Regions from separate parts of the Homo sapiens genome. Here all the other regions are reported to be linked to region 2. Evidence: microRNA targets listed by miRTarBase, many of them from high-throughput screens and not tested one by one. Region 2 holds a microRNA gene; each other region holds the end of a gene's coding sequence.

Region 1 (10,436 bases), not on the chromosome of region 2:
TGAACCCGGGAGGCGGAGATTACAGTGAGCGAAGATCGCACTGATGCACTCCAGCCTGGGTGATAGAGCAAGACTCCATCTCAAATATAAATAAATAAAATGAGATAACCTCATGAACATAGATGAGCTTATATACAAAGTTTATATACAAAGTGAAGCAAGAACATTCAGGAGAGGAGATGATGCCTCACACTAATTATATTGTTGAACCCTCCAGGAGAGACGACATACAAGCTGAGCAAAGCTCTGTGTTATAGATTCAGTTATGATCCCTTTTCTTTTTCATTATTGTGAGAAGTGGGTTATTATAAAAATAAGATGCTTTCTTTGAAGGTACTGTTCTGGGAAGAAAAAAAAAAAAAAAAGGTTCTTCCTCCCTCCCCTGAGCCTGTATCTCACCTACTAGGCTTTAAAGTCCTAGAGGGCAACTCCCGTGTTCATCTTATTCATTTTTGTTTCTAGCATCATGACTTACACATGGTTGACAGTCAACAAATATTTAGCAAATGAAGTAATCAATAAATGATATGCCAGTATCCTAAGATCTCATGTTTTAAACTGTGAGATAAATTTCAGGCCCAAGAACACGTCTCTTTTAGGTTAACGAGAAAAGATTTTATCAGTTCAGACTTCAGACCTTTTCCCCAAGCCACTCTCCAAATATTATAGTAAAGAACCTGGCAACCAAAAAGAGTTTATTTATAATTTGGTTATTCCCAATTTGGCAAGAGAGTTGTTGACTTCTTTGAAAATATGATGAAAAGTATGTCTTCTCTCAGACAAAGGAACACACAGATAAAATTCTGTATACAATTTCATTAGGTCCATGAACGTTTAAACTATGTCTCACGTTAAGAATGCTAAAAAGTGAACTGCAGCTTAGGGCAGAGTCACCATGCTGCCCTCATATTTGAAATAAAACTGACAAGAGAACAATGAGAGCTTGCTTTGGATGTAATACCAAAGGGGGAGAATATGACGCCAGTTCCAGCTCTGCCTTGATTCTGGTGAGAAGCTTTCATAAAAGACCCTGTGTTCCCTTTGGGACAGATGCCATTAAATACTGCTTCTTAATGACAGCCCACTGTCCAGCATTTCCAGCATGCACCCTTCATCCCATGATTGTATAACCAGCAGGAAAGGGGAGTGGAAACAGGGCAGAGTTTGGAATGGTGAAGATTATTGAGTTGGTTCTTTTGGCTCCTAGCATACACTTAACTTGCAGGACCTGTTTCTTGAAATGTTTCTGCCCTTAGTGGAAGTTCTAGAAATTTGCTGCCTAGGATATTTTCCCTTAAAGTCTTTCCCAGATGGATGCAAAAGAGCACAGGTTTTATATAGACATAGATAATCCCTTGTGAGATGAAAAATTTCTAGGTAATAGCTGGGAGCTGATGTTCTACAGGCCTTTTCCTTTTCTACCAGCTTGACCACTTCAGACTTTATCCAACTGAAACTAAACCTTGAGTTTTAAGGACACAGACCTTACTATGTGACCCTAGGATTTTACATCTCTTAGAGCTTCACTTTTTTCATCTGGAAAACGGGGGATAATAATAGCCCCTACATAATAGGAAGAATGGGTGAGTAACACGTAATTCAGTGCCCCGGTCCACAGTAAGCACTTGCTCAAGCTGGCTCTTGTTACTATTTTAAGGGCAGTGACCTATAGAAGAGGATGGGGAGAAACTAGGCAAGTTTGCTACGTTTGCTTTTCTGAGTGTGCTCATTCCTGCATTTTCAGGCTCTACCTTCTCCTTGCCCCAGTCCCTGTACCAACAGTGTTCTCTCCCAGGTCCAAGCCAGAGGGGCTGTAACTCTGAGCAGCTGAGGTACTAGCCATGCCTGAGGGACTTGACAACTATTTGACCACTGAAACATCACTAACATCTGGAATAACCTGGCCAGGGCAGTAATGACTGACCAGTCCCTTCAACTGTGTCCATCCCTCCCTCCCTTTCTTCCTGTTGTTTGTATTTCACTTCCTTTTAAAAACCAATTATTTATTGAGCACCTCTATGTGCCCAGCCCAGTGCTAGTGCTAGATATACATAGTTAATAAAGTGTTGCTATTCTTATATGCTGTAGTCATGGGTAGAGAGAAGAGTAAATCGTAAACAAATAAATTATGTAATGTGATAAGGCCTATGACAGACATAAGATAGAGAATCACCAGGGAGTCCTACTTAGTAGAGTACCTTCTCTGACGAGGTGGCATATGTCCCTATGGCATGAGTTGAAATCTTGGATTTTTTTTCCAAGTGCAGAGTGCCATTGAGAGTGCAGATGGTAGTAGCTTCTCCTTGTTTTTTCTCTCCTAACAGTAGATGGCTTAAGGCTTAGAGGAAATCATACACCTGATTTTTACCAGCAATTTATTTTGTCAGTTAAGTTTAAAAGAATTATGACTCTCACCTGCTCCTTTAAATAGCTGCTCACGTACTGTATACCAGGTACTGTGCATTTTATATGTATTCTCTTATTTAATCCTCTAGTAACTCAAGAAAGTAAGTTTTATCATCATTCCCCCTATGGCCAGATAAAGAAATCAGAATTTAGAGAAACGAAGTAACTTGCCTTTGGCCATATTGCTCAATCATGGTAGTTAAGACTTAATTCCAGGTATGTCTGACATAAAGTCTGTGCTATCAACCAGTAGACTAGGCTGCCTCCCTTCTTGTGATATCTTAACTCACCTGGTTCTCCTTTTCCTTTGTAGTGGTGCCAGTGAAGAAGAGGACACATGAAGGCTTGCTACCCCCAGTGGAAAATCATCCCCTCCCCTTGTGTGTATGTGACAGCGTGTATGTAACGGCTTCTGATTTCTGTGAAAGCTGCTCAGCAACAAACGTACTTCCACCAGATGTGTCCCCAGATCCACAGCAGGCACATATCTCTCCAAGGGATGACCAGTTTTATGCTTACTGTGTGCTTCTCATCCCCTGGTTGTGGTAGGTCAAGGAAAAGAGCCCCTTTGATCCACCAGGAGCAATTAAGAAAGGTCCTTCAGGTAATCCCTCAATGGCTGCTTTGAACTTACTCAGGAAAGCCAGCCCCCATAATATTGTATTACCAAACAGTATCGCTTTGTTAGGAAGGATCTGGAATAATCTTGAAGGGAAGTCAGAGTTTTCTCCCTGCCTATTAACAAAAACCCAATTTTGTTCATATTGAAGCATGAAATAAATGAGAGCAAGGTAGGGCCAAATTAACTCTTGTGGACAGTCCCTAAAAGTCCAGTTCTACATTTGTGAAAATTGTGGTGCCATGAATTAAGATGGATGACTGGAAAAAGGTGTTGGAGAAAGAGTTAAAGATGAGGAAGAGATATTTTTAGTATATGAAGTTATCCAGGACTTGATATTCATAATTCAGTGCTGTGGAAATGAAAAAAATGATTGAAGAGGTGGAACGGAAATGACCTTAGGGGGAAAAAAAAGGACCAAAGAAGTCTGATTAAAAGTTGAAATCAGTATTTCTGAATTCAAATTGCTTGAATTTCCAAAATAGTCAGTAAAGGATCTAATAGAACCAGAATTATTTGGGTGAATTCTGCAGGTTTTATGGGCTTGTCACAACGTGAAGGGCTGGAATGTATATTACCAAATGGGAATTTCCATTGTAGGTTTTTGCTAGTCCCACCCCCATTTTAGCCTAATTTGGCTTAAACGCAGTATGGGGAGAATTGTTCCCATTCCATGTGTTCTGAATTCAGCTCATCTCCCAGCATATAGATATATCCTCCTTTAACTCCGACCAGAACCCTTCTTCCTGTGGCACTCCCCACCCATAGACCTTCAGATCATCTCCCACACCCTGGATCTCACTCTCCTCTTAGTAACAGAGACACTCCTGAGGTTGGACTTCCTTGCTTTTCTCTACTTCCAAATCACAATTTCTTACAACCAAGCTTTGTGCTCCCGAGTAAGCAGGGATGTACTAGGGGAATGTAAAACTGCAAACTTAAAAACCTGCATCTTCTTGAAGCATCAGTTTTACTTACCAAATGGTTTAGAGTCATAAGATGACCTATTTTTATATAAAAGTTATATTATAGAATAAAATGTTCATACGCATAGACTGTTAAGATAAAAAAATAGGAATCTTGCAAGGTAATTCTTATTTGCAAGTGGGTTATGTGTTCACTCTCCTCTACCTTTATGGTATTTTGGTGTTCACTTACGAAGCATACAACTAGAACCATATCCAAGCAGACTCTGGGTTGCTGTTAACCCAGGGCCTAGACTTCTAGTGCCTCTGAGGCAGAACCAAAGGAGCCTGCACTGGGGGAAATCCCTTTTCCTGCCTGCCTGTCTGCCTGTGACCTGTGTACGTATTACAGGCTTTAGGACCAGCTGATTGTTATGCTTGCAGGATGGTTTTGAAACAGAAACAATACTTGTTTACTGTAGGAATCCTATTTATATTATTTTTCAGTCCTGTGAATGCTGTGAAAAGATTTATTCCTTTGAGGCCAGGAAGCTCCCAGGCATATATGCTTCTAGGTTAGGATTGTCCTGACTCACTAAAGATGCCAGGATATTGGGGCTGAGGGGAGTTTGAGGTGTTAAAAAAAAAAAAAAAAAAGCATTTTTCTCTCAAACTGATGGCCAAGAAATGGCTAGGACAATTTTGGTGCTTTACCTATCTCTGCAAAGACTGGAGAATTTGGCATACCATTAATTACAACCACCAATCATATCCAACAAAAGTACCCTAAAAGAAGGACCAGTGGCCACTCTCGAAAAAATTTAAGTATCAGAAGATTAAAAAGATTTTAGGATTTGGAAGCTTGTATTGTCTTTCCCCAATAATCATTGTTTGATCTCCAAATAGTAGCCTTATATTAGCAATAGACAGATCATTGGTTCTCCATATCTGATCATATGTTACTACTTTGAATCAGTATTTGGGAAATTCAAGCATTTATGCAGTGGATATAAATGGAAATATAAAAATATTTGCCAACCTGTCTCAGTAACTTATCATATCTCTGTGATCCTCAAGGAAAGCACTTTTGCTTTTACTTAGAAAGCGTTTCAGATTTGCTTTATAGACTCCTGCTGTCTTCAGTACCTGATAAAACTTTAACCAGGGAAGCATTAAACACAGTGCAGCAGCTTTTGCCCAGGCTTCTAAGTTCCTGCCGGCAGCATTTATCAATGTAAGAACTAGGATGCTTCCTGCAGTGGCACTACCTTCCCCTAGAGCTGGAGCATGCTGCTTGGCCTTAAGCCCCAGCATGATGAGGCTTCCCTCCTGCCAGGTCAGTAAAAGTTAGAGAGCTCAGAATTGGGTCTTGCCTGGGTGCAGGTGGCAGGGTTTGCTGAAACCCCTAAAGAGAAGTCACCAAGGGAGGCAGGTAATGAATGTTTCCAGAATCAGTCGGATACTCATAGCAATTTCTGGCTATCTTTCAAATGTTGAATTTCTGGATGCTGAGAGGGACTTTGATTTGATATCATTAAATCCAGGACAGTCCCAAGAAGTGCTTGGAGTCTCGGCTCTGACAGCCCAAGAAGGGAAATAACTTGTATTAAGGAACAACTATGAGCCAGGCCCTGAGCTGTCTCTTAGATAATAAAACAGATGGGGAGTGGAAGAGTCATTTGCTTCAAGTTATACAGCTAGGAAATACTCAAGCCAAATCTTGAACGCAGCTCCCCCTAATTCTGTGGACAGGCACTTTGTACCACACACCATGGTCCACCTAAAAACAGAAGGATAAAAAGACTTCAGGTTTTCCCACTGTGTGCTGACCATCCCAATTTATGAATCTTCTTCAAAATGACATTTCACAGTTATAGTTAGGGCTCAGAAATGGCATTGAGGTAGCCTTATTTCTCCCCTTTAGCAGATGCTTTAAGTACACATTGCTGACTTGAGCCCACCCCCAGGAGTTAGGAGAACATTTCCTTTTTCATGCCATCTTCCATAAATAAGGTGTTTCTTGGCCTTCAAAGATATAGAACTTTGCAGCAGTAGTAAAAGTGAAGGGTGTTCTGCTCTCTACTCAACTTTATTTGAAAATGTCTGCAGCTTCACTCCTGTAGAAAAGGAAATCTTCATATTTTAGTAAACTTAGCCGCCAGTGTACTCTGTGAGGATGTGGCAATTCAAAGTCCAGTGAATCTGGACTCTCTTACTGATTCCTGGTTTTAGTGTGTGTGTCGGGGGAGTGTGTACCTATATATAAAGGACAAGTGTGATATGTGTGTATATGTATATACATACATACATGTCCGCACACACACACACAATATTTGAGAGCTAAGGAAAACTCAAAGCAGCCCCTTCATTATCTTGCGTACTACTTCAAAGATTTCTGTCAGCCCTAATTACAAGTGTCACCATATAGTTGGGGCTTAGGTACTTGCTTACAGGAAGAGCAATTCCCTAGCAAAGGTCATTAGCTCCTAAGGCACTGAGTCAAAGTGACAGCCCTGAAGGAAATTGCACTCCAGCCCTCCTCCAGGATGTCTAATAAGATGGGAAACTTGGATGCCCAGCCATTTTGGTGACCTGAGAGTCTAACTACTCCAGTTAGACCTAAGGGCACAAATGCAGAATTCATGACCTTGTAGTTGTGGCAGGGTCTAGGAAGTCCTCTCTCCCCAAGTAGAAAATATTCTCTTGCCATTCCTGAAATTCCACATTCATATAATGGCTGTGCAATACATGCTTCTCAATAAGAAAATTAACTGCACGTTTACTGTGTGCTGATCACATCAGATTTTTATGTTTAAAAAAATCTCATTATGGATTGAGTCCAGCCCAGCTCTAAGAGAAAAAGAAGGCCCATATGGGAGACTTCAGTCTCATTATTATTGCCTTTATCCAGCAGTGCTTATGAAGCCCCCTACCCTGTCCCATTCCAGAAACCATAAGACTCAGGCAGTTCTTGATTCTGGAGGCCTGCCTGGTAAGATAAGATAGTATAATTTGGAACTGAGAACATACCAGAAACAGCAGAACGAGGGCCAGAGCAGAAAAATGAAAATAAGTGGAGACACTTATGGATACATTGGTGCAAAAAAAGCCACGGAGCCCATACTGGGCTTGATATGACTTTGAGGGGACAGCAGATTAATACTTAATGAGGGTTAAACCTGACCAGTCTTTCTACAGTGACAGGCCACACTGCATGAATGGGGAGAACCAATGAATCCATTGTCCTCTGCCTATTTTCCTGTGCACAGTCACATTCCCTCCTTAGGAATCTTCCCCTTCCACCCTTTACATTAAACAAGGGAACACTGAATCTTTCAAGGGAATTACACGTTTGGGTTAATGTTTCAGTATATCATTTTCATACTGTAAATTATTTTGTAAGAGAGATTTACTGCTATCCCAGGATGTTCGGACTTGGTGCCCCTGTGCATTTGGAAATCAATAAACTATTACTGGAAATGCCATTTGTCTCTCAGAGTTGTGCACAAAGGACCCTGCAAGGTGTAAATATTTATGACGAGCTGCATACTTGACTGTGGTAATGCTGGAGATGATGGTGTTTTGGTTACTAGATGTGGGAGTCTAATTTACTCCTGACTTTTCCACAGTGCCTTAGGAGAGAGCTCTGGGAAGTGGCAAAAGAACAGACTTAAGATCATTATTATTTAGTGATAAGTTTTCTCCTCAAAGTAAAATGATCCAGGCCTAGATTACATTTTATGAGCAACTTAGATTATAACCTAAAGAATACTTGGTGCCAAATTATGTTTTCAAATAACATTAAAGTTTTAGAATTTGGATGAACTAGAAGGAAGGTAAAATTGTAATTTTTGCCATATTTTCTAGAAAAAAAAATGTCTTTTAGAGCAAATTACAGTTAGGCCAACAAAATCTTTGTTTTGTGAAACTTTAGAAATACATATTTGCATGTAATTGATGAAAACATAGAATGAGTTGTAAATGAAGCAATTCCAAGCTGGTTTGAAGGACCAGAGGTTGCATTGAAATCAGAAGTCATATACTCAGAGGCCTTCAGGAGCCAAATGTGAAGACTCAAGATGGTAGATACTGTGTGAATTAGAAAATACCAAGCCCTGCCTAAATGCATTAAAATTTAATGTTTAAAAATCCTAAAACCCACCAGCAGGTGTATCTGGAGGGACAGTTTGTGGACTCTCCTCTAAATTTTCTTTTAACACATTTATCTTCATCAGACCCTTTTAGTTAGCTAGGGACTGTGTGAGAACCTTGAGAAAATTGTCCAAGAGAGGGAGATAAGTCACTCAAGGTCACCCAACAAGCCAGGCTGGTAAAGCCCAGGACAGCAGACTCTCTGTCTCCGAGAGCAATCATTAGGCCCTACTTCCTCTTCCCCAGTTGCGGAGGACACTGCTGCCTGGTGGGGTGGCACTGCCTGCCACTGTAGCACTTAGGAGTCTTCAGTGTTTTAACAAACCACAATGTGTTTGGAGGTTTTCTTCCCTGCTTCCTGGTGCCAGTATCTCAACACCACATCCATTGCCCCAGCCCTTTCTTGTTTTATCTTTCCCTCTGAAAGCTACAACTCTATATTTTATTTTATTACTCTTTGTTTGGTCCAACATGGCCCCATTTCCTTTATACTCATAAAAAGGTAGAATTTCAGCTTGTCTGGAATATCTCCTGGCCTTCACAAGGCACCAGAGTTAGAGACACCCAACAGAAAGTCGTAATAAGAGAAGATGTCACAGAAATAGAAACAAAAGCAAAAGACTGCTTGAAGTCAGTAACAGACTGCACTAAGTGTCTGTGCTTGTTAACTATTGTAATCTCCAGGTTTAAATCATTCATTTATGTTAATAAGAGCTGTCACTTAGCTCTTTCTCTGGGCCAGGTACTCTCCTGTTGTTTTTCACATTATCATAATAGTAACAGCACCAATACTATCATTCCCCACTTTGTTGCTCAGGAATCAAATTTAGAGAATTAAGTACTGTGACCACGGTTACACCCTAATAAGCGGGAAGCCAGAATTTAAACCCAGGTCTAGCAGACTTCACAGCCTCTTTCCTTAATCTCTTCTCTCCTAGCTGCACTGATTCCATCTTGTATTGGTGAATAACAACACTGATCCCCCTACAACTACCCCCACACATGTACAGTATGGCCTTGGGGCAAAGGAGTTTGCCTTTTGCAAAGAAGGTCTTGCTTTGTATAGCCTGTAAAATGCAATGTACAGTGAGGGAAAGAAAGTCTAAGGGTAGCAGTCAAATCTTCTGGCCTGAAACTGTACTTTTGGAAGGGAGAACTGTTAGACTTGCTTTATCTTCTTTATTCCAAGGCCATAAATAAGAAAATCAACGAGAGGCAAAACCATGTCTTCTTTTGCTATAGCGTTAGAATCCTGAAAGTCAGCCAGCTCTGACACTGAGTCTGTGATTTAATTAAACATGTTGAAGGCTCTCCAACAGCTTGACGTCAGGCCAGCTTCATATTCTTGGAAAGGGACAACAGCAAAAGGAGCTTATCTGTTTTAAAGTTCACTTACTGAGTTCAGCTGTCACGGCCACAGCATACCATTTGCCTTATAAAAATGGCCCACAACCTTCACAATATTTTAGGATTCATGGCAACTCATTTACCTAGGGCTTAGCCACCTGATAGCTTTACCTATCCCTATTTCCTGAACACAAAATCTAAACCAGTGGTTTGACAATGAGTAACTGAGACAGAACTAGAAAAATCTAGAACCTCTGCTGAACCCATCAAAAGTGACTGAGAATTAAGAAGTAAGCAAACAAGGCTTCCAACCAATTGAAATAAATACCATGAAGCAAACGCATAAGACAAAGGCCATACATCTAGTCATCAGGCACCTCCTCAGAACCTATTTGCTCTTCCTTCACACATATTTCTAACTGTAAAGGAAAGAAACAGACTTTTAGAGGAAACAAGAAGGAAAAAGGAGGACAGCAATAGAGAAAATGGAAATTTTGAGTAGACTGCAAAGCTCCAAAGCCCTGATATATGGGTTATTTAGTGTCAAAAACAGTCTATACACATCTCAATCTTTAAGAGCCTCACTGTATCATGGGACAATATTCTATTTAAAATGATGACCCTGTGCACCATACATAAAAAAACTATGCTTAGAAGACAAAAATATGTATATCAAACATTTTAGAAATATTTACATCCCAATGGTTAAAAAAAAAAACTTTTAGGAATTAAAAGGAATAAACCTTTGACCATCCAGAATATTTAGCTAAATCAAACAGTGTATATCCCCCTAGCTGACTTTTATTGTTTCATGAGCCTCTGGTGTTCAGAGAGTTTTTTTCACAGCTTTGTAAGTGACTTTCATGCTACAGTGCTTTGCATATAATGGCATGAACAGTGGAGGTGCCAACTTTCCAATGTGATGAATAAAACTAATAACTAGAATACAGATCAAATTCTGTTACAACAAATACTGCTACCATAAAAGTCACTTAAGCATCCCTGTT
Region 2 (10,436 bases):
CATCCCTATTGTGATGGTTAATTTGAGTGTCATCTTGATTGGATTGAAGGATACAAAGTATTGTTCCTGGGTGTGTCTGAGAGGGTGTTGCCAAAGGAGATTAACATTTGAGTCAGCGGACTGGGAGAGGCAGATCCACCTTCAATCCGGGAGGGCACCATCGAATCAGCTGCCAGCACAGCTAGGATAAAAGCGGACAGAGGAACGTGGAAGCACTAGACTGGCTGAGTCTTCCAGTCTTCATCTTTCTCCTGTGCTGGATGCTTCCTGCCCTCAAACATTGGACTCCAAGTTCTTCAGCTTTTGGACTCTTGGGCTTACACCAGTGGTTTGCCAGGGGCTCTCGGGCCTTCGGCCACAGACTGAAGGCTGCACTGTCGGCTTCCCTACTTTTGAGGTTTTGGGACTCGGACTGGCTTCCTTGCTCCTCAGCTTGCAGATGGTCTATTGTGGGACTTCACCTTGTGATCACGTGAGTCAATACTCCTTAATAAACTCCCTTTCATATATGCATTTATACTATTAGTCCTGTCCCTCTAGAGAATCCTAATACACCTGTCTTCAAAAAAAGCAGCTCTAGAAGTTTGATGACTCCCCACAATTGCAGGCTCCTCAGTCTGCAAACATGCTCTTTCACCGGCTGCCCCTGCTTGTTTCTCCAGCTCGTTTCCAGCCATTTTCTCATGTGCATTCTCCACCCCAGCCATGCCTGCTACCAGGACCACTGGAATATTCTGAACCTCTTCCCCCTCGCTTCCTGTTTATCTGTAATGTCTCAATCCAAACTTCTTCTCCTGGCTGCACTGAATTTTTAGTCCGGAATAAGTTACATTCCTTCTCTGATGTACAGTTGTCCTGGACAAAATGCTATTAAAGTTTCTTTTTTTTTTTTTTTACTTTGCTTTAATTGTGCATTTTATTTAAATTGTTTATTTTCTTGTCTGTCTCTCCCACTAGGCTATGCTCTTTTAGGGCATGTCAATGTCAGAGGCCTTTTAACCAGAGCAACTTTATCTTGAATAGGGGCTGGGTAAGGTAAGGCTGAGACCTGCTGGTCTGCATTCCCAGGCATTAGGCATTCTAAGTCACAGAATGAGATAGGAGGTCGGCACAAGACACAGGTCCTAAAAACCTTGCAGTAAAGAAGTTAACCAATCCCACCAAAACCAAGATGGCAACAAGAGTGACCTGGTCATCCTCACTGCTTATTATATGCTAATTATAATGCATTAGCATAGTAAAAGACACTCCCACCAACTCCGTGACAGTTTACAGATGCCACGGCAACAGTGAGGAAGTTCCCCTATATAGTCTAAAAAGGGGAGGAAACCTCAGCTCTAGAAATTGCCCATGATTTCTGGAAAACGCATGAATAATCCACCCCCTGTTTAGCATAACATCAAGAAATAACTATAAGTATCCTTAGTCCAGCAGCCCAAGCTGCTGCTCTGCCTGTGGAATAGCCATTTCTAATTCTTTACTTTCTTCATTAACTTGTTTTCACTTTACTTTATGGACTCATTCCAAATTCTTTCTTGCACCAGATCCTGGAACCCTCTCCTGGGGTCTGGATTAGGACCCCTTTCCAGTAACATTAATATTTTATTCATTTTCTGCCCATAGCCTTGCACAGTGTCCGGCACAAGTAGGCAATCAATAAAAATTTTGTTCAATAAATAAGAGCTCTGTGACATGAGCTCATTATTTGTTCCCTTGTGTAGATGAGGTAGACCCACAGCCAGGTTTGACTTCTTGCACTCTTACCAAGCAATCGAAGGGCTCATTTCCTGATGTGCATAAAAGCTAGTACCACGGCACCAGCTTTTGAGAAAAGAAAAGCTTTATTGGAAGTTAACTAGAAAGGAGACCAAAGGAAATGCTCAAATCTGTCTCCTTGAGCTTGGGGCTGTGGGGTTTTATAAGCATAGGGTAATAAGGCAAGATCTGATTGGGTCTTGCAATGACATGATGCTGGGAAGGCATGATCTGATTGGATCTTGCCATGGAGTGACACAAGGGCTCAATCTGATTGGATCTTGGATCCTGTCATGTGGTGTCCGCTTCTTAATTCAGTCCTGCTAATCTGTCAAAACACTTAGGTTCCGCCTGTGGTTGGATGCTTGGTCCATCTGCACACGCACAGGGTATGTGACCTTCAACCTGGGGGCAGCCCATGGCAACTGAAAAACAACTGACAACTTTGTTACATAAAAGCCGAGCCAGATTGGTCTGGTATAGTTACAGCATTACTTAAAGCATGTGTCCAAGCATGAGGGGTTCTGGGTCCCTGTTCAGTGACAGGTGACACTGTTGCTCCAGTAGCCTCTTCATTTCCTTCCTCCTGTGTCTTCACAATAAAAGACACTGTGTATTCATTCTAGGCCCATCGATTCTAACACAAGTTAATCTTTTCAATGCCTTGTGATCTTAACTCTAAGAAAAGCATCCATAATCTAAATACAAACAGGTCCCCCGCCTGCTCTGCACCTGCAAAAACTATCCCAATGGCATCACAGCTATCAGAGGAGGTGGGCTTTGCCCTGAGCATAGCACAAAGAGCCTCTTCTATCATCTCGTCGGCCTCCATCTCCTCCCTTCCCACAAGCCCTTGAACCCAAGGCTAGCCAGGTCCCTGGCCACCACTTTACCCGCAGAAGGTGAGAGGGACACCAGCCACCAGGTCCCAATTTAGAAAGAGAAAGGAAAGGAGTAGAACTGCTCTGCATACAAAAGTAGGGCACATTTGAGATTCTTTTGTGGAGAGAAACAATTAAGAAGCTGCAAAATGGGGGAGAGGAGGAGAGCTGGGAGAAGGTCACAGGGAGGAGAGAGAAGCTTGAGAAAATTGCACTAGGTAAGCCATGGCCGATGAACAATTGGGAATGATGCAGGGAATGCTTTTGAAAGACAGTCGTCTTACTATCCCAGCCTTATGCCATAGTTAGCACTGTACTCGAATTCCATGCCGTGACTGCAAATACTCCAGCAAGTGGTACAATGCAGCAGCCCAACATTAGTGCTTCTTATGGGGATGAGGAGACACAGGGGTCACTGCCTGGCAACCTTGGCAGGGAAGGAAGACAGCTGCCCCAGGAGCAAGGGCCAGGAGCAGCTGCATTCTGTGAACCTGTACCAAACTGCCTTTGTGGTTGAACAAGAAGACATGGCATTGAGAAACCGTATTCTCAAAAATTACAGACCTCCTGACAGTTTCCTCTTCAAAATCCTATCAGTAAGAATGGAAGATCCCATTCCTACCTGAAATATCTGGGGTCTCTTTGACACAGAGAAGCAGCCTAGATTTCCAAGGCAGGTGCAGTGCTTCAGATAAGGAGTTTGGAAGCACAATATTCTACATTTCTCTTAACCCTGTAGTTTCCAAGGAAACGGAGCCCTGAGTCAGCTCCCCAGCTCAGCCTGATGTTAATTACACACAGCCCTGCTTTGCGCTCATCAAAACACTGCTTCATTTGAATTTTAGCTAAATCCCATCGTTTCCCCAAATCCTAGAATAACCTCCTGCTTGCTTTGTTTGATAAGGCCCTCTATGGCTTTCTGGGGGCACTTGCCCTTTTTGCAACATGGTATTAATAAACTTTGGCCGGGTGCAGTGGCTCATACCTGTAATCCCAGCACTTTGGGAGGCCGAGGTGGGTGGATCACCTGAGATCAGGAGTTCGAGACCAGCCTGGCCAACATGGTGAAACCCCATCTCTACTAAAAAAATAAAATAAATTAGCTGGGCGTGGTCGTGCACACCAGTAATCCCAGCTACGCTGGAGGCTGATGCATGAGAATCACTTGAACCTGGGAGGCGGAGGTTTCAGTGAGCCAAGATCGCACTGCTGCACTCAGCCTGAGCGACAGAGCAAGATTCCATCTTAATAATAATAATAAACTTCATTCTGGAAAGTGCATGTTTATTTCTGGTCTCTATTATTTCAGATGGGCCAAGGAATGTCTGTCATCCCTGAACTTGTGAGATACTGTGGAAGGTGAGACATGATCCCCTAAATTGTAAGAGTTAGAGATCTCTGGGCAATGTGGAGATCTGAAAAATATTAATAATGCAAAGGCAGGTAGCACAGTAGGAAAGTAGGAAACAACCAGGAGTTTCAGAGTGAGAAAGTCCCAGGTAAAATTCCAGCTCCCTGACTTACTAGTGGGGTGTTACCTAACCTGTCTACACTTCTGTCATCTTTATCCTGGGCTGTTGCCAGGATTCGATGAGATAATGTGTGTTAAATGCCTTTCATTGTGCCTGTCATATATTAACCACTCCACATTGTTAATTATTACTATTTGTAAAATATGAGTGGAGATGAATAAGGAATGGAAAGAATTGTGAAAACATTAAGAGACAAACATCAGCTCTGCTGATGTTGTAGGACTGAGTGATTTTCTTTGGTATCCTACAATATTGCTTTCCTTTCCGCCCTGTATTTCCTTTTTCTCCTGGGCATGCAGCGAGACCACAGGCCTACTGCTTCTCCCAGTTTCCCTGTCTTGGGTAAATGGCAACTCCATTCTTCCAGGTCCTCAGATCAAATAACCTGGCATCAGCCTTGATCTCTTATCTCCTATCTCCCATCCAAAATATGGTAAACCCTGTTGGCTCTTCCTTCAACTTATCTCCAAAATTCTACCCCTTGTCACCACCTTCACTGCTACATCCTCAAACCAAGTTTCACCTTGGTTATTGAAACTGCATCCTAACTAGGCTTCCTGATTCCACCATTACTGCCTTATATTCACCCTCCACTCAGCAGCAGGAAGATCCTTCCAATATGTAAACACCCTCTTAGGCTTAGTATCCTCCAGTGACTCCCACTAAATCCTTACAATAGCTTACGAGGTCCTACACAATCTGGCCCAGATCACCTGTCTGAACTCATCTCTCCCATCTCCTCTTCCTCATGACCCTACACCAGCCATACCTGCCTCTTGGCTATTCTGGAAATGCTAAGAATGCTCTCACCTCAGGGCTTTTGCACTTGCTGTTCCCTCTGCTTGGAGCACTCTTCCTCCAGATCTCCATATGGCTTCTTTCCTCACTTGCTTCAAGCCTATGCTCAAGTGTCACCTTGTTGGAGATAATTCCCTGACCACTATGCATGCACACATGCACGCACACACACACACACACACACATACACACACAGAGTAATTCCCCCCATAGCATCTATTGGCCATGGACATACAACACATTTACACATTTACTTTTCTGTATGTTTCTTTCTTTTCTCTGCCACCAGAAAAAAAAGGTTCCACTTGATCAGGAACTTACTCTGTTTTGTTCACTGCTCTGTCTCCAGCACGTGAAACAGAGTGGCATAAAGCAGATGTTCAATTAACATGTATTTAATGAACTGAATGAAGTCACAGGTTTTAAGGAGTGTTAATTCCCATGCACGCCTGAGTAAGAGAAACAATCTCACTTTTCCTTTTGATCACATGAAAGAAACAATAGAAAAACAATAAGTGGTTTCCCCCCAGCTGTAACAGCGCCAGGGACTTCCCACCTGCTGCTTCTGCTTAGAAAAGCAGTGGTGTTTGAAGAATTCTTGGAGGTTATGAGCTCACGTGTCTGTGTTCTGACACATACACCCCCACACGCCCTTGCACACTGCAGTACAGAAGGAAACCCTACTGAGAGAGGTAGGCAGTCTATGTCCAGGCTGTAGAAACAGTGGCTGCCATCACTGCTATGTTACGGACCCTAAATTAGCTTATTTCATGACCCCACAGAGTTACACTGATTGTTTTCACACAGTGTTTCTCAAAGAGTGGGCCAGAGCAGCAGCAGCAGCAGCATCTGCAAACTTGCTGGACATTTGAATTCTTCAACCCATCCCAGATCCACTGAATAGAAGCTTTGCAGGGCTCAGCCCAGTGCTCTGTGTTTTAACGGGTCCTTTGGGTGTTCTGATGCAGTGAAGTTTGAGAACTTCTGCTTCAGTGGACAAACAAGAATGTCTGGGAGGAAGAAAAAGTACCAAAAAAAACTGACAAAATTTTTTAAATGCCATGTAAAGGCTGAGTGCAGTAGCTCATGCCTGTAATCCCAGTACTTTGGGAGGAGGAGGCAAGAGGATTGCTTGAGCCCAGGAGTTTGAGACCAGCCTGGGCAACATAGGGAGAGTCTATCTCTACAAAACAATTAAAAAGTTAGCCAGGCATGGTGGCGTGTGTCTGTAGTCCCAGCTACTTGGGAGGCTGAGGTGGGAGGATCACTTGAGACCAGGAGATGGAGGCTGCAGTGAGCCATGATCCTATCACAGCACTCTAGTCTAGGCAACAGAGCAAGACCCTGTCTCCAAAAATAAATAAATAAATAATAAAATGGCCATGTTAATCCTAATACTGAGTTCTAGCTTTACTTATCAAGCTGTGTGAAACTGAAATAAGGACATCAGGGTGAGGGAACTGGCTCTCTCGGGAGAGGGGAAATCCTATTTCTTCTTCATCACTGACCGCTTGCTTCAGTCAGGCTGTTCCTGTCAGGCTGGTGTGAAATGAATTAGCAATGTCACCAGCTTCCCAAGGAACAGGTGTCTCTGCCATACCTCCGGCAACCAATATCACGACTTTCACTAATTGCTCTGCCCTTGTCAGGCCCTTTGAGGACTAAGTGGGCCCTGGAGATGGAGTGACCCTTTACCTGCTCAGAGCTGCCTTTAATCCCAACCACATGCCCCCACCCCACTGGAGCCCCGGAGCATGGGAAATATGGAGCACCACAGTAGCAATGCAGAAGCATGAGTCACTGCTGAAGCTTGTGGGAGGAAAAATAGAATTCAGGCCTTCTGCTCTAATTACACTTGATTGTTGCCCGTTGTGAACAAGGACTTTTAGGGTTGACGGTATCCTCACCATCGGCCCACTCTGTTGGCGGGACCCAGGAGCTGGTATTGCTGGAGAAATTCACACAGAAGGGGAATCACTTCTTCTTAAAATGAAAATTTGGGCCAGGCTCAGTGTCTCATGCCTGTAATGAGAGCATTTTGGGAGGCTGTGGTGGGTGGATCACATGAGGCCAGGAGTTCGAGACCAGCCTGGCCAACATGGTGAAACCCCGTCTCTACTAAAAAACAAAAATTAGCTGGGCACGGTAGTGCATGTCTGTAATCCCAGCCACTGGGGAGGCTGAGGCAGGAGAATTGCTTGAACCCAGGAGGCAGAAGTTGCAGTGAGCCAAGACTGTGCCACTGTACTCCAGCCTGGGCAACAGAGTGAGACTCTGTCTCAAAAAAAAAAAGAAAGAAAGAAAGAAAGAAATATAAAGAAAATTGGCTCATGTCACTCCTCTGCTTGACTGACATCTGGATTGATTGACAATGCCTTTCCATTGAGCTTAGAATAAAATCTCAAACCCCTCAATGACAGTAAAAAAAAAAAAAAATTTTAATTATGAGCAAGAGACTTGAATAGACATTTCTCCCAAGAAGACACACAAATACCCATTAAGCACGTGGAGAGAGGCTCAATATCTCTAACCATTAGAGAAATGCAAATCAAAACCACAGACTTCACATCCACTGGGATGCTATTATGAAACCCACACATTCAGAAACTTATGAGTGTTGGCAAAGATGTGAAGAAGCTGGAAGACTTGTGAACAGCTAGTGGAAATGTAAAATGGTGCAATCACTGTGGAAAACTGTATGGCAGTTCCTCAAAAACTGAAACATACAATTACCATAGGATCCAGCAGTTCCATTCCTGGATATAGTCTTAAATGGAAAGCAATGACTCAAACAGGTATTTGTACACCCATGTTCATTGCAGCATTATTCACAATAGCCAAGAGATGGAAACACCTAAAATGTCTATCACTGGATGAATCAACCCCAAATGTCATATATCCACACAATGGAGTATTATTCAGCCTAAAAAAGAAAAGAAAATTCTAACACATGCTACAACAGGGATGAATCTTGAAGACATTACGCTAAGTGAAATAAGCCAGACCTAAAAGGACAAAAATTGTATGATTCCTCTTTTGAGGTTCGCAGAGTAGCCAAATTCAGAGAAACAGAAAGTAGAATAGAGGTTACCAGGGGCTGCAGGGAGAGAGGAATGGGGAGTTAGTGTTTTAATGGGTACAGAGTTGCAGTTTGAGATGATGAGAAAGTTATGGAGATAGCCGGTGGTGATGGTTGCACTATAATGTTAACATACTTAGTGCCACTTAAACATAATTAAGATGGTAACTTTGGTATTATGTATATTTTTCAACAATAAGAAGTTTTCAAATCCCAAACCCCTCTCTTATATGGCCCCTTCTCATTTGTCCACCACTCTCTGACATTTCTTGATCTCTTGCTTCTGTGCTTCAGATATCCTGTTTTTATTTCAGTTCCTCAAAAAGGCCAAACTCGTTCTCAACCTCAGAGCCTTTGCACTATCACTTCCTCTGTGGGGAACATTTTTCTCTCTATTCTTTACAAGGATAAATCCTTTTGATGTTTTGTATGTGTGGCAGAGACTACCTAGACGCTCACACCAAGCTGTTTCCTCTTCCTCCTGGGCATACGTGTCTCACTGGGCATACCTGTTCTTCCTGGGCTACACCTGACTTCCCAGCCTCCCTTGCAGTTAAGTGTGTCCAGTGATGGTGAGAAAGAAAATCACCAGCATCACTGCAGGCTTTCTACCCATTCTGGAGAAAACCCTGATGCAGAAGGGCAAGGGGATTATGGAAGGGAAATGTTAAAAACTGAGGAGCCACAGATGGCTGGGGCCAGGGTCCCTGAATCACTGCATGGAAGAGAGGCACCTGCTGATCAAGCCATGTTCATTTTGGATTGTATGTGGGTGGAAAGAAAAAAACTTGTCTTTGAGCCATGACACATTTTGGGGTGTTTCTATTATGCTTAAAACAGCTAGTCTTTCTGTAATACGAACCCCAAAGAGGGGTCTTCTCTGACCATCAATGTCAAATATCTTGCCCCTGTCCATCATTCCCTGCCCCTTTATGTTGTTTCTTATCCTAGCTTCATAGTTTGTAACTTGTTTATTCATTTTAATACATTGATTTTGGAACGTTTTCCCCTCTAGATGGCAACCTTCTTTGATACACAAACTGTATATCTTGTTTGTCACTGCATTTCCCTAACATGCCCAACACGAGCTCAATAAACGTTTATTGCATGAAGGAATCAAGATCTGAATTTCAGCCTGGTCGCCAGTGGTGCTTGTCCATTCTGTTAGACTCTCCACTGCACTCCTGCCATTTCATATAATATGCCTTTAGTCACAGTCCCTTCACTGATGGCCTCAGAGCTATTTGAAACCTGTGCACATTCTGGTTAAACCTTTCATCACAGTATTTGGTGATGCTGCAATGAATGCGGAATGCTGGTCTGTCCCCCACAGACTGAGTCTTTCTAGGGTGTATTGGCATTCCTAGTGTCTAACAGGTAGTAGGCTGGCAAATGAATCAATGAGCCGGTGAATTAATGAATTTATCTCAAGAATTTGAGACTGATCCTATCTCAATTCAGAGGCAGAGCACAGAATGCAACATCATCAAAGATTGACACGTTCCTTGTCTAGACAAGTGCTGCGAGTCACCACAGCCTGCGCGTAGTCTGGTTGGGAAAGAGCCCTGGCTGGGCTGCAGGAGATGTGAACTCAGAGCCTGCCCAGCTCACTGTGCTCTGGCAAGCTACATTCTCTTTCCCTGACTCAATTATCTTACCCATAAAACGTGGCATTTGGGCTAAACAATACTGAAACTGTGTTAACCTTACAGTGACATTACTTAAACCCTGGCAGTCAAAGAGAAAGTAGAAAACGATGCTTTATATCTGTGTTGTCTCATTCAGAAGCCACTAACCACATGTGGCTACCTAGCACTTGAAAGGTGGCCCGTCCAAATTCAGATGTGTTGTAAGCACAAAACGCACACTAGACTTCAAAGATTTAGTATAAAAAATGTACATTTCTCGTTAAAAATTTTTATACTGATTTCATGTGGAAATAATATTCTGGATATATTAGGTTAAATGAAATACCCTATTAATCATTTCGCCCATTTCTGTTTACTTTTCTTAAATGTGACTACTAGAAATTCTAAAATTACACATGTGAGTTGCATTTTGGACAGCACCATTCTATGCTATTATTAGTACTGAAATTCAGCTACATACTTCAGACTATAATGCATAAATCATTGATTCTACATCCTTTCCTGAGTTATCCAAACTCATTGTCAAATGAATCCAAAAAAGGTTCACTAAAGTCGATCTAACTACAATGAAACTTCACTATGAATGGATGCCCATGTAGACATTATGCAGTTTTGTTTCATAACCAATGGGTTTTAGGTTAAAACTATTTCTGAGAAACAAAACAATTCCAGCATTGGAAAATGATAAGCCTAAAACAAACTCAGTAGAGACCAGAAAGACATAAAAAGAAAGGGGCCAGGC
Region 3 (10,436 bases), not on the chromosome of region 2:
GATTGGGTGGGTCTGGAAGCCATCTCAGGCCCTCATTCCTGACCTCACTCTTTCACTGCCTCCAAGCTGTGCCTCTACACAGGGTGGGAAGTGAGGGGAGAGATGACAGCCTTAATTCTTCTCCGTTTCCTCCCACCCCTCCCAGCACCCAGACCCGACAGTTCTACGTCTCCATTCAGCCACCTGTTGGGGAGCTGATGGCCCCTGTGTTCATGAGTGAAAATGAGTTTAAGAAGGAACAGGGTGAGTGCTCCCTGGGAGTGGGCAGAGAGGGAAGTATAGAAGCTGACTCCAGAATGTCCAGCTTGGATGGTAGGGAGAATGGTGGTGTCCTTCATCTAGACCAGGGGTCAGCAAACTTTCTGTAACGGGCCAAAGATAAATGTTTTAGGCTTTGAGAATCATGTGGTCTCTGTTGCAGTTACAACACGACTGTGGCTGTTGAAACATAGAAACATCCACAGACAGTATGTAAATGAACGAGTATGGCTGTGTTCCAAGAAATTTCCATTTATATTTATAGATACTGAAGTTTAAATTTCATGTAATTTTCATGTGTCATGAAATATTAATCTTTTGATTGCTCCCCCAACACTTAAAAAATATTAAAAACATTGTGGGCCATATAGGTGGTGGGCTGGATTTGGTCTGGAGGCTGTAATTTGCAAAACCTCTGGCCTAGAAGAAAGAAGAGTGGCTTGGGCAAGGGAGGAGGGAAGATCATGGTTAGTTTTGGATAAGCTGATTTTGAAATGCATTTGGGAAATTCAGGAGGAGCTATTTAGTATGCAACTGAAAATATGGGTCTATGCCCAGGAAACACTTTGAAGCTGGAGTCATGAACATAGAGGTGGTAATGGAAGCTGTGAATATGAATGAGATCACTCTGGGAGGTGGGAGAAAATAGGAAGGCCAAGGACAGAACCTTGGGGGAAAACCTGAATTCTGCAGAAGAAAGAGGAGGGGAGGGATAAGAGAAGGAGCACAGGGAGAGGTGGGAGGAGAACCAGGAGAGACAACAAGGCAGAAGGTGTCTGCAAACCACAGTTACCTAAGACCTTCAGAGTCAGCATATAAAAGGCTACTGCCAACCTGAGGGAGAGAGGGTCATTGCTAAAGGAGGGACAGAGGCCAACTGCAGTGGGTTGAGGGAGACCACGGCTCAAGTACATGCAGTCCTCTTTGGAGGACTTTAGCCATGAATGAGGAGGGAGACAGGGCATTGGCACGATGAAGGATCTCACTTCTGGAAAGGATTTTTTGGAGACGGGGACACTTGAACATGAACAGATTGAAGGAACAAAAACAAGAAAATGTTATTAGTCATGAATGAAGGGGATAGAAGAAACAGGAGAGGGATGTCAGTTTCTAAAAGGAGGTGAAGAATAGGGGAAGCAGTGGAGGGAGGAAAGAGGCTGAAGAGAAGACTGCTGGTGTGCAGGAGAGCAGACGGAGGAGCTCCCATGGGGGGCCTGGATCATGTGAGTGGAGAGAAGTCAGCCTTGCAGAATGAGGAGTTCTGGGGGTGCTGTGAAGGTTTGGAGGCTTCAGGAGCCCTGGCTAGGTCTGGAGCTGCTACTGCAGAGGTACAATTAAAAATGTACCTGTGAATGCTGCATGTGACTACTGGATTCTGGCTGAGAGATCACAGCAGCCACCTGTGATCTTTTTGTGAGGGCTTAGCTTCCAGGAGCTGAGTGGGAGTTGAATGTGGGTTGGAGGGCCCCCCAGGAAAGATCAAAGGGTGTGAGGTTCAGGATGGGCGAACCTCTTAAGAACTGACTGGCCACTCTCAAGGGGCTGGTAGCCCAGATGTCTGATGGAGGAAGCGCCAAATCAGTCTTTGGTAACAACATGGATAAAGGCCTGGGTGGGAGGGGTAGAGAGGCTGACAAAGGCTTCCTGAGGGAGGGCCCAGTCTGAGAGGGAAGTACCTTCTCCCCAAGACTGATGATTTAAATTCTGACCTGCCCTTTGCATGATACCTTCCCAGCCTGGGAGAACTTGTTGCTCAGTAAGCAGACCCAGGTGCTGGCCTCTGTACCCACCATGGCCTCTGCCCTCATCACGACCTCTACCCCCAGGAAAGCTGATGGGCATGAATGAGATCACAGAGAAACTCATGCTGCCAGACACCTGTCGGAGTGACCACATTGTGGTGCAGAAAGTGACTGCCACTGCCAACCTGGGTCGTGTTCCTTGTGGGACATCTGATGAGTACAGGTACTAGGCCACCAGTAGAGGGGAAATGATGAGCATGGGGGCCCTGGTTTGAAGGAGGAGCCCCAGCTGCTGATCCCCTTCCAAACACAGTCACCCTTAGCAGCTCTTCCTCACCCCTTCTATTCCCACCTCAGGTTTGCAGGGAGGACACTGACTGGTGGAAGCCTCGTTCTGCTGACCCTGGATGCCCGGCCAGCTGGAGCTGCCCAGCTGACTGTCAACAGCGAGAAAATGGTGATTGGCACCATGCTGGTAAAGGATGTGATACAGGCTCTGACCCAGTGACTTCCAAATGCTGTGACCTGTTTGGCTCCCATCTATACCTCCCCATGACACCTAGGCTGTCAGTCTCTCTCATCTTTCTCTCTCTCTCTCATCATCCTCCTCATGCCAGATAGCATTCAGGGTGTCCTCTCTCCCTCTGGAGGACCAAGCCCTCCCCTAATGCCCTCCCCATGGATTCCTTAGTGATCTGTGCAGAGAGAGATGGCAGCCACTCCCTTCAGTCCTCCCAGATTTCTGTAGCTATTTATGTAGCAGGCTCAATAAAATGTCTTCTCTCTAGCTGCTGGCTCACCTTTCCTTCTAGGGGTTTGTCAGGAACAACTCTTGTTGAATCCCCAAGGTAACCATCTCTGGGTCAGGATGCCTAGGAGTCTGCAGGCATCTCTGTGGAAGAGACATCTGGGCTGGGGTGGCAAGGCAGAGCTGGAAGAGCACCTTGGTCCTTTTTATAGCCTCTGCAAAAACAAGTCCTCTTCAATGGCTGGCAGACCCCCTTAGTTCTTCTTACGGTCCCTTGGGAAGGAAGGACTCATAACATGGGGACTTCCCCAAACACAGGTGCTCAGTTCAACATATGTCAACTACTCCAGTTAGGGGGCCTGGAGGCCCCACCTGGCTGGGGTACTGACCCACTGGTCATCTTAGTGGAAGAATAGAAGATGCATAACTGTACTTCTCAAACCACTTTGTGGCAAGTCACCTGGGGATCCCATCACATGCAGATTCTATTAGTAGGTCTAGGGTGGGGTCTGAAATTCTGCATTTTTTTTTTAAGTGAAAGCAGCCGGGCGTGGTGGCTCACACCTGTAATCCCAGCACTTTGGGAGGCTGAGGTGGGCCAATCACGAGGTCAAGACCAACATGGCCAACATGGCGAAATCCCATCTGTACTAAAGATACAAAAAATTAGCTGGGCATGGTGGTGCGCACCTGTAATCCCAGCTACTTGGGAGGCTGAGGCAGGAGAATCGCTTGAACCCAGGAGGCAGAGGTTGCAGTGAGCTGAGATCGTGCCATTACACTCTAGCCTGGACGACAGGGTGAGACTCTGTCTCAAGATAATAATAACAATAATAATAATAATGTGAAAGCAAATTTATTAAGAAACAACAGAATGGCGACTCCATAGGCAGAGCAGCAGATTCTGTATTTGTAACAAGACACCAGCATCTGCTCACACCTGGAACAAACCTGGTGGGTGCAGTGGGGGTCAGGGCTCTCCCTGACACCTTTTCTGGTGAAGAAAGAGGCTGAGTGAGCAGTGGTTCTAAAACGTATAAAAGGTGTTCCATTAGGATGTGTTCTGTACCCTCCCGCCCCCTGCAAAGTCTATGATCAAATAAGTTTAGGAATCTTGGATTTAAGTGAAATAAGTTCATTTCCTACAGGTCTTCTCAGAACTTTTACTATGCTAATGTACACTGTGACCACCTCTCAGCCTGCAGTGTTACTCAAACTTGGTTTTGATTTTGGAACACTTTCCTCACAACATCTTGATTGACTGGGTTACAAGGAACACACTCCAGTTAGTTTGAGATGTTGAACCTCAGCCTCTGATCCTCTGTGACCAAGACTTTAGGCCCTTGGCCATACTGTCCCTCAGCCCTGCCACTTAGGCATCCCTGAGCATGTCTGTTCATGGGTAAGATGGGGTGAAGCAGGTGTGGCTGTCCTCTCACAGAAGGAGAACAAAGGCAGTGCCAGGGGACAGCCCTGCCTCTGGCTCCAGGGACTTGCTGGGCACTGTGACACCAGAGAGCTGCTGGAGCTGCTGCTTCCCTGAGAGCCTGGGGCCCCAAAGTCTCCCTGGGATCACTGTTTTTGTCACTGCAGATTCTGAGATGGTCCTCCAGTCAAAAGTAAGATTCAGTCTTACTTTTGCCTCTGAATCAGCACTACCCACAGCACTGAGAGAGGGTGAGGGTGATTTTCTAAGAAATTTGAACAAGGACCATCAGAGAATCCCTTACCCACCTTTATTCTATATCAAAAGCCCCAGAGTAGAGCTGGGCATGTGTCTGTAGTCCCAGCTACTCAGAAGGCTGAGACTGGAGAACTGCTTGAGGCCAGGAGTTCAGGGCTGTATTGCACTATTATTACACCTGTGAATAGCACTCTATCCTGGACAACCTAGCAAGACCCTACCTCTAAAAAAAAATCCCCTTTTAAAAAAATGGGATTCTGTAGGAACCAGAAGTGCAAAAGGCAAGTCCCACAACATTCCTCAAGTACAGTCCAGGTTCCCAGAACCTCTTGGAAAGGGCACTGGGATTTCCAACCCTGAGAGTCCAGAGAGTTGGAACCTTCACGGCTCTGTGTTGGTGTCTCTGGAATGTGTCCCAGGCTTTGGCATTAGCAGTAGCAACTCTTCATAAGGAAATGGTTCTGGTGTTTGACCAAAGAGAGAGGCAGGAAGCAGGAGAGCAAGGTGTGGGCAGGGGAGAGTATGACTGCAGAAGGAGCCCAGCGGGGAGTGGTGTGCTGCTGGTGAAGGCTGGGCTGGGAGATTGGTGGGGCAGCAATTTCCCACCCAGGAGGAGCATGGGGCCTGTTCTGTGCTGAGTGAACGGTCTGGAGTGAGAGAATCTCAGTCACAGAGGAAGGGGGAGTGGTTGCCCCAGCTCTCGTTCCAGCCCAGCCCATCTCTTCCAAGGCCATACCTCCCACAACCCTACCACATGAGCATACCTGAGCGAGTGTGCAGGGATAAGATGGGGGCCTGCCCAGCACACACAGGTGGAAGCAGGTCAGACCTGCAGGGGCTGGGGGCCCCCACATCCCCCGGGGGCATTTTCCCCAACCCATATCGTATTCTGTATTTTATCACTGGCCCAAGTCTTTGCCACTGTGGTGACACTTTGTCCCCAGGTTATTAGGGGCCTGGTCACAGAGTGTCTGGATCTCAGTTGGCAGGGAAAATGCTTCCCATGAACAGCCTTTTTTTTTTTTTCTTTTTTTTTGGGAGACAGAGTCTTGCTCTGTTGCCCAGGTTGGAGTGCGGTGGCACAATCTCCGCTCACTGCAACCTCCGCCTCCTGGGTTCAAGCAATTCTCGTGCCTCAGCCTCCTGAGTAGCTGGGATTAGGGATTACAGGCGTGTGCCACCACGTTTGGCTAATTTTTATATTTTTAGTAGAGACGGGGTTTCGCCATGTTGGTCAGGCTGGTCTCGAACTCCTGACTCGTGATCTGCCTGCCTTGGCCTCCCAAAGTGCTGGGATTATAGGCGTGAGACACTGCACTCAGCCTAATTTTTTGTATTTTTAGTAGAGATGGGGTTTTGCCATGTTGGCCAGGCTTGTCTGAAACTCCTGAGCTCAGGCAAAACACCTGCCTCGGCCTCCCAAGTGCTAGGATTATAGGCATGAACCACCATGGCTGGCCAGTCATGAATAGTTTTGATGGGACAACCAGGGAACTAGCCCAGGGCTGTGGGATTCAGGTGGGGCCCAGGACCACAGGACGGACTGGGAAGCACTCTTAGGACTCTGCTGGTGCAAAGGAAGGGCCGAAAGTGGCCTGGAAGTGGATAGAAGCACAGGGACTGGCACAGAGGCAGTGACAAGGATGGGGTAGTGCATCAGTGGGGATCTAGGTCTGAGCCTGACCACAGGCCTTGATGGGTCAGAGGACAATGAGCTCAGAGAGGGGCTGGGAACTGGAGTCTAGTCCAGGATGGCTTCAAAACAATGCCCAGGCAAATGGGCAAGAGAGACAGCTCGTTTCCAGCCAGGCTGCATCACCTGGCTAGCTGCAGTGGCTGGTGACCCGGGGGAATAGATCCATTTAGAGATACCAAGGAAGCCACTACAAGGACCCTGGAGTTGCGACATTAGCTGTGCCCATGCTTGAACTCCCATCTGTCTGGTGACTAAGGCAAACCCCTGCACTAGTTCAGCCTATTCTGCTTGGCATCTTGACAGTCACCTCCCAATAGTGTATCTTCCACATCAAAAGGATGGGTGTTGAGGGTGGAACTCAAAGTGGGAGGACTTTCCCTGTCCTGGCTTGGAAAGGAAAGGGAAAACTGGAAAATTCTGACCCACCCGAGGACCTCAGCCTGAGTCTTCCTTCTGTCACCACCTGGTCTTTTGGCTCCCAGAGTCAAGAGAAGGATGGTGAATTGGTCCCTGGGAGGGTGGAGCCCAGGTTGGGATATGGAGAATAAGGATTAAAAGTGGCGTATCCTCAAGGAAAAGAAGCAGTATATACCTTTTTGGGTCTTTGACTTGATGGCTCTGGTTTGACCCCAGTCTCTCTCCCTGCATCCCCAATCCCACTGACCTGTCTAGAAGAAAGCACTTAGGGCTGAACTTTTTGATCCTGACCTTTGGGAACCCCCATTATTTTCCCATTACCAACTGCCCCCTTGCTGCAGAAGATGCTATGGTGTCACTGAGGCTTCGCTTCCCTATGGCATCTGGAGAACAGAAAGAATGCTTCTCTCTATCCAGGCCCCAAATACATTACGCCCCTGGCTTTGGAAATATATTTTTTTAAAAATCTAAAGTTTCAGTATTTAAATTTATGAATCTGTAAACATATAATTTATAAATTTATGAATATTTAAGTATAGTATTCCTACATAAAATTGTACAGATCACAAGTGCTCAACTTGATGCGTTTTCATAGACTGAATAACCCATGTAAACAGCATCCAGCAAGAAAAAGCGTGGCAGCACAACTTCCTCATGTCTGCTTCCAGTTTGGGGCAGTGTTTCATTTTGCTGAGAGATTACAGAGTCCTGAAACAGTTTGACACCAGGCTCCAAGTGGCAGTGGGATTTCAGAAGGCCAACATGGATTTGTGTCCAGCAATGCCAACACAGTGGCAGATGCTTCTCTTTGGGGCTATTAGGGATGTGTTAACAACAGCCTCTGTGGGAGGGGCAGGGTATGTGGAAATAGGAGGGTTGTCTTGTTTTGGCTGTGAAGAATGTAAGGAAACACCTATGGAGGAAGAGGAATTCTTGAGAGCTTGGGCAAGGTGACTTTGACCTTGGATGTGCTAAGACCTCAGCATCTGTACCTTCAGAGGGAAGTCAGGGAGGGAGAGGTGGGGTTGGTGTTTCTCATGGGTACCAAGGCAAGACCAAGACCCTGGACTCCTGACCCTCACCAAGAAAAGCTGCATACTCTCGAGTAAATCTCTGAATGTCTCAATTTCCCCAGCTGCAAAACAAAGGGGATGGCCTCTCTGATTCCCATGTCTCTGGGCATCCACTAACCCATTACAAGCATCTCAGGACAACCAGCACTCACCTTCAACCTCCAAGATACTCCCCAATGATCTTTGCTACCTGATATCTGTATCCTTGTGTCATTCCCTCCCACATATTATCAATGTTGGTGTTATGTGAATAATAGGATACAAATGATGGTATGTCATTTCTCAGATTAGGTTATAAAATTCTTTGAACCTCCATCTTGGTTGTTCTCTTCCTCCCTCTCAAGCCAGCTACCATGTCTTGAGCAGCAATATGGAGAGGTCCATGTGACAAGGAACTGAGGCTTTTGCCGGCACCCACTTGAGTGAGCTTGGAAGCTGATCTTCCAGCCCAAGGCAGAGCTTCAAGTGACTGCAGTTCTGGCTGACATCATGACTACAAACTCATGAGAGATTCTGAGCCAGAACCAGCCAGCTAAGCCATTCTCTGATTCCTGACTCCCAGAAATTGTGCAAGATAATAAATATTTGTTGTTTTAAGCTGCTTAGCTTTAGGGGTAACTTAATAGCAATAAATAAATAATACAATCCAGCCTTCCACCCATCTCCTAGGTTGTTGGGAAAGCCCTCAGGGAGCCTGGATCCCTGAGTCTGGCCTTCAGAGCACTCTGCTCCCACATTCAGTGTCTGAGTGGTGTGCCTGAGTTGGCTTCTCCTGGCTCATGAGGGCTGACTGTTATTACACATTCAGGAATTTTGTGAGCCAGATGATGTCACACTGACAATTTGAAATCAGCCGTGGTGGGAGTTTTTATGCCATGGAAAGAGACAAATGCTACAAATCACTTCCCTCCCCCAGCCAATTGTCAAACATTTACCAGCACATCACGGCCCTTAATTATCCCCATCTCTGTCTCTTTAAAATATTATTATGTATTTCAAGTTTAGAGACTATCATAACCACCTGTATACTAATCATCCAACTTGAGAACTGAAGCACTCATCAGTTCAGTGCTCATCAATCCAATGTCCCCCACACCCCTCATTTCATGACTGCTTCCTTTCCCACCTGAAGCAAATCATTCTGAATTTTCTGTTTATCAATAACATCCTTTTTTTTGTACTTTTACTATAGATAGACGTGTTCCTAAACAATATATAGTACCATACTTTGTGATGGTGGTGCGTACTACACGTTTTCAAATTTTATATAAATGGCATCTGAGAGTATGTTTTCTCCTACATCCTGCTTTTTCACTCAATATTGTTTGTAAGTCATGTTGATGTGATCTGCTGTATTTCATTTACTTTTACTTATATATAGAATTCCATTGTATGACTATACCATAATTTATTGATCCACTCTCCTGTTGGTGGGCATTTAAGATTATTTTATTTTGTTTTGTTTTTGTAACTATTAACAAAACAGCTACAGACATTTTTACTCATGTTTCTTAACACGTATGAAAGTTTCTCTAACATATTTTCCTAGGAATGGAATTGCTGGGTCATAGAGTATACACTTTTTCAAGTTAACTAGAGAATCCAAATTGCTCACCAGAGTTGCTATACTTCACATCAATAATATTTCTAGCAGCTTTATTCATAATAGTCCCCGAAGTGGAAAGAATTCAAATTCCAATCAATAGGAGAATGCAGAAATAAATTATGGTGTATCTACACAATGGAATACTACTTAGCAATACAAAGGAACAAACTACTCCTACATGCCAACAACATGGATGGATCTAACAGGTATGTTGAATGAAAGAAACCAAAAATTATATGAAGTCTAGAACAGGTTAAATGAATCTGTAATGAAAAGCAGTAAGGTAACGGTACCTTGAGGAGGGAGGTATAAAGTGGGAAGGGGCAGGAAGGAACCCAGTGGGGGTTCTGGAGAGATTCTATGCCTCCATGCGGGTGGTGGTTACCTCGGTATACACTTAAGATTTGTGTACTGTGGCCGGGCGTGGTGGCTCACGCCTGTAATCCCAGCACTTTGGGAGGCCAAGACAGGTGGATCACAAGGTCAAGAGATCCAGACCATCCTGGCTAACAGGGTGAAACCCCGTCTCTACTAAAAATACAAAAAATTAGCCGGGCGTGGTGGCGGGCGCCTGTAGTCCCAGCTACTCAGGAGGCTGAGGCAGGAGAATGGCATGAACCCAGGAGGCAGAGCTTTCAATGAGCCGAGATCTCGCCACTGCACTCCAGCCTGGGCGACAGAGCGAGACTCCATCTCAAAATAAATAAATAAATAAATAAATAAATAAAAAAGATTTGTGCACTCTATGCATTGCCTTCTCTCCATTAAAAGATATGAAACATAAAAGCACACACCAAAGTAGCTGAATCAGTTTACGCCCTCACTAGCAGTGATCCTGCTACTGGGACAGTGAAAGTTGATCATTTTTTTCCATTTGAAAAGTGTGGCACGGCATCTGATTGTGGTTTCATTTGCATTTCCCTGGTTACTGATGAGGGTGGGCATCTACTGATGTTTCTTGGCCATTTGGATTTTCACTTGTGTCAACTGCCCATTCTCATCTTTTGCCCATTTTTCTGTGGAGTTGTGTTTTTTCCTCATTGATTACAGAACTTCTTACATAGTCTGGAAACTAGTTCTTTGTAAATACATGGATTGGAGATACCTTCTTCCAGTCTATGGCTTGTCTTTTCAAGCTTTAAACAATATCTTTAGCTGGGCGGTGGCTCACGCCTAATCCCAACACTTTGGGAGGCCGAGGCGGGCGGATCA

What was found. Region 2 holds the annotated microRNA hsa-miR-4293 (CAGCCUGACAGGAACAG, at 6,492-6,508, opposite strand). A microRNA usually pairs through its seed, bases 2 to 8, with sites in the 3' UTR of a target mRNA and lowers its output. Matches are read on the target gene's strand: a 7mer-m8 pairs with bases 2 to 8, a 7mer-A1 pairs with bases 2 to 7 and ends in A, and an 8mer does both.
Region 1: miRTarBase lists TRIM44 as a target of hsa-miR-4293. The part of its 3' UTR that is shown has no 7-base or 8-base seed match.
Region 3: miRTarBase lists AP3B2 as a target of hsa-miR-4293. The part of its 3' UTR that is shown has no 7-base or 8-base seed match.

Annotation. Positions count from the first base shown.
Region 1 is chr11:35,803,639-35,814,074 of GRCh38, forward strand. TRIM44 (tripartite motif containing 44) reads left to right here. Exons shown (of 5, transcript NM_017583.6): 5 at 2,720-10,436. The coding sequence ends at 2,747. Among named protein-coding and RNA genes, the nearest start is that of LDLRAD3, 140 kb to the right of the region's middle.
Region 2 is chr10:14,376,719-14,387,154 of GRCh38, forward strand. It overlaps MIR4293 (microRNA 4293), which reads right to left and starts at 6,559; the gene lies at 6,482-6,559.
Region 3 is chr15:82,651,632-82,662,067 of GRCh38, reverse strand. AP3B2 (adaptor related protein complex 3 subunit beta 2) reads left to right here. Exons shown (of 27, transcript NM_001278512.2): 25 at 146-243; 26 at 2,085-2,223; 27 at 2,358-2,787. The coding sequence ends at 2,508. The region is part of intron 3 of CPEB1-AS1 (CPEB1 antisense RNA 1); the gene reads right to left. Among named protein-coding and RNA genes, the nearest start is that of CPEB1-AS1, 9.1 kb to the right of the region's middle.